Linked DNA regions of Homo sapiens. The protein of the gene in region 1 purifies or fractionates together with the protein of each later gene. This does not show direct contact. Each region holds a gene or a part of one and is shown on either strand. Other genes may lie near its edges.

What was found.
Region 2: the proteins of TMA16 (region 1) and PRRC2A purify together in Homo sapiens (affinity purification with mass spectrometry; one large-scale study listed by BioGRID and IntAct). This does not show direct contact.
Region 3: the proteins of TMA16 (region 1) and EEA1 purify together in Homo sapiens (affinity purification with mass spectrometry; one large-scale study listed by BioGRID and IntAct). This does not show direct contact.
Region 4: the proteins of TMA16 (region 1) and CLCC1 purify together in Homo sapiens (affinity purification with mass spectrometry; one large-scale study listed by BioGRID and IntAct). This does not show direct contact.

Annotation. Positions count from the first base shown.
Region 1 is NC_000004.12:163,511,690-163,515,189, forward strand, and holds part of TMA16 (translation machinery-associated protein 16), read left to right. Parts: intron 1-1,132; coding exon 1,133-1,170; intron 1,171-2,384; coding exon 2,385-2,469; intron 2,470-3,500. UniProt on the Homo sapiens protein: Involved in the biogenesis of the 60S ribosomal subunit in the nucleus.
Region 2 is NC_000006.12:31,627,215-31,630,714, forward strand, and holds part of PRRC2A (protein PRRC2A), read left to right. Parts: intron 1-550; coding exon 551-1,025; intron 1,026-1,929; coding exon 1,930-2,120; intron 2,121-2,333; coding exon 2,334-2,631; intron 2,632-3,376; coding exon 3,377-3,500. UniProt on the Homo sapiens protein: May play a role in the regulation of pre-mRNA splicing.
Region 3 is NC_000012.12:92,926,496-92,930,645, reverse strand, and holds the start of EEA1 (early endosome antigen 1), read left to right. Parts: upstream 1-1,350; 5' UTR 1,351-1,579; coding exon 1,580-1,603; intron 1,604-4,150. UniProt on the Homo sapiens protein: Binds phospholipid vesicles containing phosphatidylinositol 3-phosphate and participates in endosomal trafficking.
Region 4 is NC_000001.11:108,932,485-108,935,984, reverse strand, and holds part of CLCC1 (chloride channel CLIC-like protein 1 isoform 1 precursor), read left to right. Parts: intron 1-1,042; coding exon 1,043-1,315; 3' UTR 1,316-1,360; exon of another isoform or gene 1,361-1,365; intron 1,366-1,439; exon of another isoform or gene 1,440-3,483; 3' UTR 3,484-3,500. UniProt on the Homo sapiens protein: Anion-selective channel with Ca(2+)-dependent and voltage-independent gating. Permeable to small monovalent anions with selectivity for bromide > chloride > nitrate > fluoride.

The sequences.
Region 1 (3,500 bases):
TGGTATATAACAGTAGTCCTAACTACATGGGAGGCTGAGGCAGGATGGTTGCTTGAGCCCAGGAGTTTGAGGCTGTGGTGAGCAATGACAGCACTACTGCAGTCCTGCTCGAGCTACACAGTGAGGCCCTGTCTCTAATGATAATAATGATAATAATAACAAAAGATTTCATTTTATTTCTCCAGTTTTCTAGTTGTGTAAAATGGGAGGATAAATCTGGTTTGCTTACTTCTTTGTGGATAAAAGCCATGTATACTTCCTGCTTTATACAAAGCCTTCTCCTATGGCTAAGATTTTTCTTTTACCATTCCCGTAGTCCCTATCTTTTTTTTTTTTTAATCCTGAATAACTTCTCTGTATGTTCAGGTCTCAGCTTAAAATTTACTTCTCTGGAAAACCTTCCCAAATCCTAAAACATATGGTAGGTGCTTTTTAAATATGCTTTTATAGCTCTGTATGCTTCTCCATGTTTTTATTGCCCTTAGATTTTAAGGTTTTTCAGGACAGGGACAGTGAATTTTTTTTGTTCATGGCTGTATCCTTTGGGGCTATCAGAAACTAAAGTCTGGCAAAGACTTGGTATCCAGAGGTCTCCTGAATGAGTAAGTGTTTAGAATATCAGTAATAGGAGGCATGTGTTACCTATACACTTTCTGAGCATAGATGAAATTTTTGTTTGTTATAATTCTTTTCAAATTCATTGAAAGTAACCATTCTGTTTTGTTCTTATTGAAATTTAAAAGATGACAGTAGTGCATTTTGATCTTGGTGGCAGTACTCAGTCTTCCAGAAGGTTTGCATTACTCTTGTGCTCAAGTATTCTGCATATTACAGAACCCATCTGAATGTTCACAATTCAGAAAAGCTTTCAGTTGTGTTTTCAAAACTGGTTTGTTCTATAGGCTTCCTTTAGACATTGAGGTGCTTAAAGGAAGTTTCTGATAAAATTCTAGTGATTCAAAAGAGAAGCATAGTATTTAATGTTTCTGTTAACAAAATTATTCTCAAATTTGTAAAAGAATGACCTTTTAATTAGAGTTCTTTAGGCAGTTTTTCTTTTCGTTGTTATTGTCAGAGTTTTAAAACTTGCTTTGGAAATTTTCTAACACATATATTTACCTTTCCTTCAAAGATTGAAGAATGAAAAGGCCTTGCGTCTCAACCTTGTTGGTAAGTGGGTTTACTTATTTGAAACTCTGGCTAGAGTATAGGGCATTTCTGCCCTATACTTGTTTTTCTTTTTACTCTTTTAGTGAAATACTGTTTTTATCAAAGTGAATTTGATCAGACTTGATCTAAACAAAGCAAATCAATCATTAAACTTTTGGAATAAACAGTGTTAATGATTTCTAGCTCAGTTTTCCAGAAACTGTTAGTTTATATTTATCTACCTACCTACCTGTCTACACATAACATTCATATCCATCTGTCCATCTATCTGATGTTTAACTCTACCTCCCTAACCATTAGAATTATGAAGGATTATGGCCTAGGTAGAAACCACAATTCATATTTATTTAATGATGTGGACATACACATCTTCAGTTTGTATCTCAGTGTCATGTCACTGTTTTTTTGGTCAGATTTATTGCTAATAATTTTTTACTCACAAATCTGAGATTTAAATACTGACTGTTAGGCTCTTTTATTAAAATTAAAGGTATTTGAACTCCCATCAATGCTTCATCAGGTAATAGAATAGTATTTTTAAATGGGATCTCATTGTACAGGGCCGGGTGATTTTTTTTGATCTGTAATCTTGAGAAATCTAACTGAAAGTGACCCTGACGGTCAGGTTTACTCACAAGGGTGAATTTTGTTGGCTCTTTGGTAATATATATCAATTACTCTACACAGTACCTGGCAGCTCTTATATGCTTAATGTATTTGCTAACTTTGGGGCCCTGGACAGGTCATTTAACATCTCTCATCTACAAATGGGGGTAATAATAGTACTAATTCTCATGGGATTATAAAGCTATTTACATAGTGCCTACAGCTTATTAAATACTCAGCAAATATCATTCTCATCATTAATGGAGTTTTCATTTTATTATTTTTGACAAGCTGTCCTTTGCTTTTAAATACTTAGAAGTTCAAGCTCGACTAAATAATCATTTTCCTTTTTTGCATCCATATTGGATAAGAAATATATACAGAAGCGCATCCCTCCCACTCCTCTTTCTTCTCTAAATTAAAATCTGACAGTTTAATTTGTGACAGACTGGTTTAATTAGCTTTGAGCCCACACAAGGCTTTATGTTTAACATTGACATAAATTTTGGTTCTGTTTTAAACACGTTAATGTTGAAAATGATAATGAATATTTACTTGCTTAAATGATGACTTGTGGGGTAAACTGTCTTGGTACTTGTTGTTTATAGGTGAAAAACTGCAATGGTTTCAAAATCATCTTGATCCCCAAAAAAAGAGATATTCAAAGAAAGATGCTTGTGAACTAATTGAAAGGTAAACACTGGGCATATTATGAGCAAAGGGTCAGAAAAGGGAATTGTCCAGCCTGGTTCTTTAAGACACAGAGCTCTGTTACGGATTTGCAGAAGAGCAAATGGGCTTTGTTATCAGGAAGACTATTTCCTGGCTTAGTCACTATAGGAGGTTTGTAACCTATTTGGGTCTCAGAGTGGTAGTTAGGCCACTTTCTTGGGATCAGGATGGGCTTCCTGGAGAAGTGTCATCTAAACTGGCAGCTGAAAGGTGGGGGTTAGCAGATCGAGGCAAGGTAGTTTGAAAAACCCCTAGCAAGAAAGAAGAATATTTAAAAATGCCCAGAAGTGAGAATGAAGATAACGTATTTAGTGATCTGCCAGACATTTAATATGACTAAAATAAGTTGAAGGAGGGAACTGTGGCAGGTACAATAAGTGATAGCTAGCTCATGAAAGACCTCAGATGTCAGTCTAAAAGTTGGGACCTTATCCAAGGACATTAGGAACCACAGGAGGCTTTTACAGCAAGCAACTGAAATGATCATACTTAACATTAGAAGGGACACATTGAGAATGAAGAAAACAGACTGAGAGGTTCATGACTCTGGTCAGGAAACCGTTGAAAGGTTGCTGTAACAATCCAGGCCAGAAATGATGGTGGCCTCAGCTTGGCTCATAGCCTGATAAAGAAGTGAAAGATTCCAAAGAAATTAAGAAGGTAGAAGTCTCAGTGTTCAGTGAAAACTTAGGTGTGGAATAAAAGGGATAGAGAGCAGTCAAGGAAGCCATCAGATTCCTCGTCTGGACAACTGTTTCCTGAGATAGGGAACCCAGGAGATGGAGGGGGTTTGGTGGGGGGTAGGTGGGGACAGGGTGATGACAAGTTCAGTTTTGATGTGCTAACGGTGAAGCCACTAGGGGACATCCAGATTGAGATGGTGGTTGAATGTGAGGGTCTGCAGTTTGATAGAAGGCTGCGATTTGGTCACTGAAGTTAAAGAAATGGTCGAGTTATCCAGGGAATGGGTAAAAGAGGTTTGAGGACCTGAG
Region 2 (3,500 bases), on another chromosome or scaffold:
AGGGATTGAGAGGGTCAGCTGTGGGAAATTGGTGTCAGCTGAGTAATTGAAGCGGTTGTGATATAGAGGAAGGGGGGTGCTAAAAATGGGCTGTGTGAAGTGCCAGGCTGCAGAACATCCTGGGAAGCTTTTAAATATCTTTGGTAATAGGGGAGTCTGGGTAAGAAGTGAGAAACTGGGATGCTAATGAGGAAAGAAGAAAAAGGAGCCCTGGGTGTTTGGGTTTCGGAAGGAGAGAGGGAACAGAAAAATAAAAAGACTAGGGTGGCTAGATAGCTGGATCTGTTAGTATGCATCAGTAGTCCAAGCTACTCAGCAGGCTGAAGCAGAAGGATCACTTGAGCCCAAGTTCAAGACCAGCCTGGGCAACATAGCAAGACGTGGTCTCAAAGAAGACCAGGATAATGAGTTTGTCACCACCCAGAGAGATCAACCCCAAAGCCTGGGTCGTTGCATCCTGCAAGTAGCGACAGTTGATTTGTTGTAAAAGAGATGATAGAAAGCATAGTAACTGATTCCCCTGGCCCTGCTGGGTCTTGCCAATTGACAGGATCGTGGGGGTCCTCCCTGCAAGCCCCCAGCACCTGAAGATGAGGATGAGGCATGGCGGCAGCGACGAAAGCAGTCGTCATCTGAGATTTCCCTGGCAGTGGAGCGGGCCCGGCGACGGCGAGAAGAAGAGGAGCGGCGCATGCAAGAAGAGCGCCGGGCAGCCTGTGCTGAGAAGCTCAAGCGACTCGATGAAAAGTTTGGGGCACCTGACAAGCGGCTCAAAGCAGAGCCTGCTGCCCCACCTGCTGCCCCTTCTACCCCAGCTCCACCACCTGCAGTCCCTAAAGAACTCCCTGCACCTCCAGCTCCACCTCCAGCATCAGCCCCAACACCAGAGACAGAACCTGAAGAGCCAGCACAGGCCCCTCCTGCCCAATCTACTCCTACTCCAGGTGTGGCTGCGGCTCCCACTCTGGTGAGTGGTGGTGGCAGTACCAGTAGCACCAGCAGTGGCAGCTTCGAAGCCAGCCCAGGTATGGAGATGGGGATAGGTACTACCAGATGTCAGATCACTGCTTCAAGGTGCTTAAAGGTGCAGGGTGGTAAGGCTGGGGATAAATGAAGTAGAAGGCAGTTGTTTTGGTTTATTGGACTATCAGTGATAGTGTTCTATCATTTGTATATCTGAAGGAGGGAAGGTTTTGTCTGGAATCTTAGGTTGTAGTCTAATACCATTTCTTGGCAGAGTACTGTAGCTCACGCCTATAATCCCAACACTTAGGGAGGCTTGGGGTGGAGGATCGCTTGAGCCTAGGGAGTTTGAGACCAGCCTGGGCAACAAAGCAAGACCCTGTCGGCCAGGCATGGTGGCTCACACTTGTAATCCCAGCACTCTGGGAGGCCGAGGCGGGCAGAACATGAGGTCAGGAGTTCAAGATCAGCCTGGCCAACATAGTGAAACCCGTCTCTACTAAAAATACAAAAATTAGCCAAGTGTGGTGGCATGTGCTTGTAGTCCCAGCTGCTTGGGAGGCTGAGGTAGTAGAATCGCTTTAACCCGGGAGGCAGAGATTTCTGTGAGCCAAGACCATGCCATTGCACTCCAGCCTGGGTGACAGAGCAAGACTCTGTCTCAAAAAAAAATCCTGTCTCACAAGAAATACATAAATAAAAATGAAAACTATTTCCTATAGGCCAAGACTGAAGAAAGTACTGTTGTTCTAATGGTTTCATAGAAAGTTAATGCCACCACCATAGGCTCATGAGAGGCCATGAAGTGCTTTAATGGGTCTTAAATGGGAGGGGCTTCAATAGAATAGATGTTGAATAGAATATTTTAGTCTTAAGGGAGCTAGAGATGAGACGTGAGATTCCTGGGGTGTTCATGGAGTGTCTATTGTTGGACTAGATCACTCTGTTGTGTTTTTTCCGATGCAGTGGAACCACAACTGCCCTCAAAAGAGGGTCCTGAACCACCAGAAGAGGTTCCTCCTCCTACCACACCCCCAGTTCCAAAGGTGGAACCCAAGGGTGATGGGATTGGTCCCACCCGCCAGCCCCCTAGTCAGGGCTTGGGCTACCCCAAATATCAGAAGTCGTTGCCTCCTCGTTTCCAGCGGCAGCAGCAGGTGAAATCAAGTTGTTTACCCTCTAAGGGCTGCTTTTCTTCCTGGCTTCGGTCCCTAATTCTCTTCATAAGTTACCTTCTGGGTCCCTTTGCTTCTTTGTCCAGTTGTCTCCATTGTCACGCCAATTTCCCCTAGTCCAAGTTTTTTCTTTGCTGATTCCTTTGTCCATGTGTGCTTTGAGCCTCTCTCATCTTGTCTTTCCTCCTTTCCTAGGAGCAGCTCCTGAAGCAGCAGCAGCAGCACCAGTGGCAGCAGCATCAACAGGGCTCTGCCCCTCCTACCCCAGTGCCCCCATCACCACCACAGCCTGTGACCCTGGGGGCTGTGCCAGCTCCACAGGCTCCACCCCCGCCCCCCAAGGCCCTGTACCCAGGTGCTCTGGGCCGGCCCCCACCCATGCCCCCAATGAACTTTGATCCCCGATGGATGATGATTCCTCCTTATGTGGACCCCCGGCTCCTCCAGGGTCGTCCCCCTCTAGACTTCTACCCTCCTGGTGTGCATCCCTCTGGTAAGGGGGCATGGGAGGAGTGAGAAACAGGAAAGTCCCCTCAGTCTTAGGCATTGGATATTAGGGTCTTACTGTGACTCTGGTACGATAGGTTTTGCCCATCATAGTGATGAGGGAAGGGCATATGCTTGGCACTGCTGAGATAGCTCTGTTGCAAAAATGGGCTTAGTTAAGAAATAAGCAGTGGTTGGCCAGGCATTGTGGCTCACGCCTGTAATCCCAGCACTTAGGGAGGCCGAGGTGGGCAGATCAACTGAGTTCAGGAGTTCGAGACCACCATGGCTAACGTGGTAAAACCCCATTTCTACTAAAAATACAAAAAAGTAGCCGGCGTGGTGGCGCTCGCCTGTAGTCCCAGCTACTCGGGAGACTGAGGCAGGAGAAACGCTTGAACCCAGGAGGTGGAGGTTGTAGTGAGCCGAGATTGTGCCATCGCACTCCAGCTTAGGCAACGAGCGAAACTCCGTCTCAAAAATGAATGAATGAATAGCACAACTCCATCTCAAAAATGAATGAATGAATGAAAGAAGCAGTGGTCCTTCATTTGCCAGGATTTATTTGGGGTGGGTTGATTCTCTTGTAGGGAATCTGAGTGGATAACCTTGTTATATAAGAGCAGGCAAGGCCCGGACCTACTGGGAACAAGAGATGGAAGAGCTGACTTGACCGCGAGGGGAGATGCTTTTTGGGCTGGAGGGCTTGTGACATGAATAGGATTATTTTTCTTTTTCTTTGGTTTCTTCAGGCCTAGTTCCCCGAGAGCGTTCAGACAGTGGGGGCTCAAGCTCAGAGCCATTTGACCGTCATGCACCTGCTATGTTACGGGAACGGGGCACTCCACCGGTGGATCCAAAGTTGGCCTGGGTAGG
Region 3 (4,150 bases), on another chromosome or scaffold:
TACTCATATATTAGCTGTAGGCATGACCGTGCTGCTGCACCATCGAGAGACACACACACACATAATAAAAAACCAAATATATTTGGGATAGAAATATCATATTACATTATATAATGCATTATACTTTACAAAACATTTTCCTATTCATTAACTGATTTGCAAATAATATTTAATTTTGTGCTGCTTTTCAAAAGATCTGGAAGTGCTTTCCAAAAAGCACTCCATTCATTGCTTCATAGGCTTCATTCAGTGGTCTGTTGGTTTTTTCTTTTTTTTTTTTTTTCCCTCCCAGCAAGGTTAGTTCCATTATTCCCTCTCCTTCCCTATTCAAGCAATATTAAAGGCTTCTCTTTTTCTACCAGGGTGTTAAGTTGAGCCTCTTGGCTGTGAATATTGGCAGAATGGTAGGACGCAGAAGCTGTGATTTCTCGAGTTAAATAATGACATCGTGCCTGGAGGTCAGTTCAAAGACCACGTCGTTTTGGCACGATATTTATCTGTGACCTCATTTTCTTCTTAATCTATAAAACAGAGGCGTTAATGACAATTTACTTCATAAATCGATTATCAGAATAGGACTTAAAATTCCTTAGGAGGTCAAGCACGGGCTTTAGAAAGTGCAACATGTGAACATCAGCCTATTAAAAATTGTTTTGATCTAGAAAAGACAACCTCAAACTTCTCTTGCCAATTCAAATTCCAGCTTCTTCCTACCCTTCTTTTCTAAATCTTTGCTTTCTCTTTGGCTGAAATTAGAAGCAGGAAGGGAGCAGGGAAAGGAAACCTGGGACTGGAAAAGGGCAGGGAAGCCCAACAGACCGGTTAAGCACGTCTGAGATTCTCTAGTCGGCTTCAACCCAGGGGCTAAGAGGCAGAGTCAGCGTTTCCAGCAGAAACTAGCATATAGCTCAGGCTCAATACCACGTCGAGTCAGGAGCCATCGCCGGAAGGGTCACACCGACACATTTTACAAAACAGCCTAAGGCGTCCCCTCCTCCCGCCTGGGTCAGGGAGGGACACCCCCAGGGGTCCTCGCCCGCCTCCCACTAGCGGGCACGCGGTCGTCGCGCGGGCGCGGCCCTCTGACGGAGCCCAGGCGTGCACTCCGCAGCCTCGGCGTCCCCCAGCTAGCCGGAAGAAGCTGCGGCGACAGCGTCCTGCCGCCTGTCTGTCACGCAGCCGCCCACGTTGCCACCGCTTCCGATTGGTCGCTGGCCTGGACCGGCCCCCTTCAGCCCCGCCTCCCGCGAATGGACAGGCGAGGGGCGGGCCCGCCACCGCCCCGCCCCCCGGCGGCCGCGGGCGGGCCCGCCCATCTGTCAGTTACGGGGGCTGCCCGGCGGGCGGGCTGGAGGCGCTCGCAGGCTGCCTAGTCGTTCGCTCGCTCTCTCTCGCGTGCTCCCTCTCGCCGCCTGTGGGGAAGTCGGGGCCGCCCGAGCGGCCGTCGCCACCGCCTCGCCCCGACCTCCTTCCCGGTCCCCTCCCGGCCCAGTCCCTCCCGCCCGCGCACCCCGAGTAGTGAGTGGCCCCGCGCAGGGTCTGGAGAGTCACCGCGGCGGCGCCGGGTGGTGGTTAAACCATGTTAAGGAGGATTTTACAGAGGGTAAGAGAGTGAAACCGTCTTTCTGGCAGCACGTGAGCGGGACAGCCGGAGCTCGGGGCCGCGGCGCGGGCGCCCCTCCTCAGCGCGGGCTCCTTCCTTCCCTAGGCCCCACAGCCCGGCAGGCGCTTAGGCCTCGGTCGCCCGGCCCGGGGGCGGGGAGGGCGGGTGGGGCCGGCGCGGCGGGGCGGCAGGCAGAGCCCTGGTGGCCCCGCGCGTCCAGGCCTGGCGCCCGCTCCGGCGCGGGGCTCCGTGTGTGCGAGCGGGCTGCGAGCTGGAGGGTGTGGTGCCGGCGCGTTCCTCCCGGGAACCCTGAGTGGGAGTGAAAATGGAGAGTTGGTGCCCGTGGGACGGGCCAGCCGCCGCCTGCCGGGCTGGAGAACGCCCCATGGGAGATTCGGGCGGCTTGCTTCGCCTTTCCCCACCCGCCGCACTCCCCGTGCCCCCCAATTTGACACGATGCGCACCTGCCACACACGGCCCTGCTTTCTCCTTTGGACCACAGTGGAGGGTGGTGTGGTGAGCCCCGGCCTAGCCTGGGCCCAGGCGTGGGACTGACACTGGCACAGTCAGCCGAGAAGGAAGATGTTACTCACTGTTGGAAACTTTTTTTTTAATTAAAAATATGTTTTCTGTGCAAGCCCCACTACCTTATTTTAGCTATCCAAGAATAAATCCGCAGTAAGCTTGATCAAGTGGTATATACACTTAGTTTCTGCCTGTGCTGTCTCTGAAATCTGGAAAACCTTGAGGATAGAAAGATTAGAGCATTAGAAAACTGTAGGTGTATCATTTAAGAATCAGTTACTAGAATAACATAATTCACATCTCTTTTCCTGTAAGAGTTATTGTACCTGTCAACTTAAATTTGTTTTTTTTTTTTGGTATAGCTTTTTTCTTTTCTTTTTGAGGCTGATAGGGTGTAACAAAATGTAAATGATTGAAAAGTAGGTGCCGAGCCTATTAGTTCTTTACCGAGGGAGTAGGATAACTAGTTCAAAGGACAAAAGAAATTAGTGAATTTGTAGGATTCAGCCGAGGAATGTGCGGAAGAGAGTTGAGTCATCCAGTAGATAGGAAGGGAGTGCTCTTGCTTCTGCCTAGCTTTCTCCTGAAAGAATGAAGTCATGTGAAACTTGGTCAGTTATTAGAGGGAGAAATAGTTAACTTCTTTATCTGACAACCTGTGTTGACATTTAATTGTATTTTGCAGTGTTTTGTGAATTTTGAAATCCCGGTAAGCGATGATTTTGGCAGTAACAAGGGCATGTCCTTTACTTTCCCCATCACTTCCTTAGTTCAGCAGTAAAGACATCTGTGCATGATTTACTTTCAGGCTTTAGGAGATTTTTCTTTTATCAGACCTGGAGGAACTGATTACCTCATGTTTCAGATTGTGTTTCTGTCATAGTTCTGCAAGTGAAAATTAGTTTGCCTGTGGTTTGCTTTGAAGTTTACAAATAAAAGTGTTTACTGGTTTAAGGGTAGCTCAGCTGTAGTTATAGATTGGTTTTCAGAAATATGGGATGCTTTCTAGTAATCTTGGTTTAAAGTTAAACATCGAGATTATATGAAGATCATTTTTAATGTTGGTGCATACCTATCAACTGTTAAAGAAGCTTCTGTTGAAACTACAAAAGTGAAATTGATTGTGGTTATTGCAGAGATGTGATATTGAATCATCACTTCTGAATAAGTCAGTTGACAACTGAGTTTCTTAACGTCGGCGCTATTGGCATTTGTGACTGGATAATTCTGCGTTGTGGGAGGCTGCCCTGTGCCTTGTAAGATGTTAGCAGCATCCCTGGCATCTACCCCCACTAGATGCCAGTAGCATTCCCCTATATCCCTTCCCCCTTGTGACAACCAAAAATAGCTCCAGATTTTACCAAATGTCCCCTAGGGGCAAAATTGCCTCTGGTTGAGAATCACTGTGTTAAATGCATTAACTCTTTAGTAGGAAAGTTTGAAGTGTTTCTCACAGTTAAGTACTTAATTTTCTTTTATTCAGTGTATTTATATTGAGTTTCAGTAAATGCCAGGCTTCATGCTAAGGGGTAGGAAACAGTTGATTAAGCTGTGGGTCCTCCCTTTAGAACTCACAGGCTGTTTGGGAGGTGAACATTTAAAAGTAATGACAGTGCTATGTAATAGAATAATGAAGAGGACAGAGGACCCAGGAGGCACTCTGTGGGAGGTGAGGGCAATTAGGAAAAGCTTCAGGGACGGGGGCATATTCACAGCTCAGAAGAGGGAAGGGCATGTCAGGCAGAGGGAACAGCAAATGCAAAGAGATGGAGTCATAAAAGGCGCAGGTAGTACTGTGAGGAGTGTGAACAATGAAGCTTAGGAAGTGAGATGGTCTGTAGCAATTAGTAAGAGATGAAGCTACCGTGGTGGCTAGAGACCAAATTGTGAGAGGACGTAAGAGTCCCTTTGAAGGAGTTCAGCTTTTATCTTGTAGTTGGGTCAGTGTTAATGCTGAGTATTTAATAGGGACATTTTGATAAATGTCTTAAATCTGGTGATTTACTAGTTTAGAAGGTAGAA
Region 4 (3,500 bases), on another chromosome or scaffold:
TATTACAATGGCCTGGAAGCCTCCTTGGTCTCCCCTTCCCCCACATCCACTACCTCTCTGGTCACCTCTTCTCCCTCCGTGCTTACTCTACTTTAGCCATAAGGGCTCCTGACTGTTCCTTGAACTTGAGAGCCTTTGTACCTGCTGTTCATTCTACAGTCTTCATTTATATATCAATCATATGGTTACTTTCTTCAGGCCTTTACTCATTTTTATTATTTTTGGAGACAAGGTCTCACTCTGTGGTCAAGGCTGGGGTGCAGTGATCATAGCTCATTGCAGCCTCAAAATCCTGGGCTCAACCGATTCTTTTGCCTCAGCCTTCTGAGTAACTAGGACTATAGGCATATACGACCATGCCTGGCTAATATTTTTTATTTTTTGTGGATATGGGGTCTTGCTGTTACCCAGGCTGGTCTCAAACTCCTGGCCTCAAGCAGTCTTCTCACCTTGGCCTCCCAAAGTTATGGGATTACAGGTGTGAGCCACCATGCCTAACCATATCACTTTTTCAGACCACCCTAATTTAAACTGTAATTTGACCCTGCCAGCCCACCCACATTCAGCACTCATCTCTTCTCTGCTTTTTTTACATAGCCTCTTTAATTCAACATATCACACTTGTGTGATTTTCTTCTAACCTAAATATAAGTTCCAGTGAGAACAGTTTTATGTATTTTGTTCCTGCTGTATCCCTAACACCTAGAACTTAATATATGCTCAAGAAATATTTGTCAAATGAATTATTCTCACCAGGCAAGAGAAGTTGACAATACTGATGACCAATTCTCTTGACCCCTTCTAAGCTGGGCCACTAGACCACCCAGTATATGCGCTAAGCGTTCCCACTCCTCTGTGGGAGTACTGTGGAGTTTGGTGAGGTATAATAACATTTATATAATTATAACCCAGCACTGGACCCTGGATTTGAAAGAGTTTGGAGCTTGCTACAACGGATTTGGGTGGGAACTTTTTAGATATGTTTGATTACTAAGACTTCACATTACATTAAACAGTTAAAATGTAATTTTGTACTTTATAGCATAAATCACCTGTTTTGGATACAAAGCCCAAGGAGACAGGTGGAATCCTGGGGGAAGGCACACCGAAAGAAAGCAGTACTGAAAGCAGCCAGTCGGCCAAGCCTGTCTCTGGCCAAGACACATCAGGGAATACAGAAGGTTCACCCGCAGCGGAAAAGGCCCAGCTCAAGTCTGAAGCCGCAGGCAGCCCAGACCAAGGCAGCACATACAGCCCCGCAAGAGGTGTGGCTGGACCACGTGGACAGGATCCGGTCAGCAGCCCCTGTGGCTAGAGGAACACCAGCACAAACGACAGCCTCAAGTCTCCTTCGAGCTTTGTAAAGTATACTCTTCACTCTCTTTCTCTTCTCTGCAAGAATTCTGATTACTACAAAGGTGCCAACTTCAACATTCACATTTCAACTTCAACATTCACATTTTTACTGACAATTAGAATTAACAAACACGTTATATATGTAAAAGCTTTTCATTTCATCTTCTCTTTGATATTTACATCCCATAAAGTAAGAAGTGTTTATTTTAAGATGAACAGATGACAGGCATCACTGATTCTGGATAGTTAAGGAGGCCAGTTTGAATTGGGGACATTGAAAAAGAAATTTTATTGTTACAGGCACTTACGGGAACCCACTAACCAATTTACATTGCCTAGTGAATCCACTAGAGTTAAGGCCACCCACTTGATGCCTCCAGCATCTTCATGCAGCCATGGAGTATCGTTACCAGGATCAGTCTGACTGACACCTCAGCTTATCTCTACGCAGGCTGCCCACAGGTCACTGTGGCTGTAGTTTCATCTTTTCCACAGCTATTACTACGCCTGCATCCTTATTGTTCCTTTTACTTTGTTTACTTAGAGAAAACTGAAGACTGCCAGGGCAATTTAGATAACATAGCTTGTTATATTGGTAATCTGTTTTACAGAGTCAGTCGACTGAAAATGACTTTATTCTTTTCCCCCACCAATTGAAGTGCATGGGCTTTTTATAAAACCTATTTTTTGTGTTACTCAGAATCCTAGCAGTGGAGACTATTAGATATTACCATATCTTAATTCATATTATAGCAAATCATATTGTCTTGTCCATAGGAAGTTTGCATTTTTAGAGATCTATACATAGAGAATACCATGATGAGGAAGAAGAGAGTTGGGTGTCTTCCTTAACTGCAGACAGGACATCAGTCAGCACTTTACATTAGTCTTTCTGATTATCAAAAGCATTCCTCATTTTAAACTTTTTAAAAAGCAATGCATAAATTTTGTACCTGTCCTTAGCAGACTTCACAGACATCAGGTGTCCTTTGTTTTAACCATATTCACACTACAAGTTATGTTCAACTGCTTACTAAAAGTGATACCAGTCAGGAATAAAGTCTTTAAATTTTCATGCAGATATTTGTATCCCAAGCACTTGCTTTTTTATTTTAATATGAAATGCAGAATACACATTTTTGGATCCAGGAAGTGTTACTTACGTGCCTGTAACAATGTAATTTTAGGCCAGGTGCAGTGGCTCATGCCTACAGTCCTAGCACTTTGGAAGGTTGAGGGAGGATGATCGCTTAAGTTCAGTTGTTGAAATGCAGAATACACATTTTTGGATCCAGGAAGTGTTACTTACGTGCCTGTAACAATGTAATTTTAGGCCAGGTGCAGTGGCTCATGCCTACAGTCCTAGCACTTTGGAAGGTTGAGGGAGGATGATCGCTTAAGTTCAGTTGTTGAAATGCAGAATACACATTTTTGGATCCAGGAAGTGTTACTTACGTGCCTGTAACAATGTAATTTTAGGCCAGGTGCAGTGGCTCATGCCTACAGTCCTAGCACTTTGGAAGGTTGAGGGAGGATGATCGCTTAAGCTCAGTTGTTCAAGGCTATGTACTAAAAATAAAACTAGCCAGGCATGGTGGTACACGCCTGTAGTCCCAGCTACTTGGAGGGCTGAGGCAAGAGGATCGTGAGGTGGCAGTGAGTTATGATCGAGCCACTGTACTCCAGCCTGGGTGACAGAGCAAGACCTTGTCTCAAAATTATACATGTTAATATATTCTAGTTTAATATTGCAAACATCTTTAGAATTTCATCAGAAACGTGATTTTTTCTAAGAAATGCAAAAGGATTTTAGGATTTTTAACACAGAGGACATGTTTAACAAATGAATCCTGACAGACACCTGCAGTTTAGAATAAATTTGTGAACATCCATGCGTATAAAGTGTCCTCTTGGGACAAGACATGTTCACACTGACTTGGGGAATATGCCCCCAAGGTGAGAGCTGTCTTTTGAACTGTGATCTGACTCTGAAAAGTAGTGAATGCCCCAGGTGATAGACTGTAACTGTGAGTGGAATTAATGCTGCTTGCATGCCTTTTAATCCAAAACCAAATTCTTTTAAAAAATTTTTAAATAAAATTTCACCTTTGTATTCTTTCATTACAGATATCCATTTGGGGATG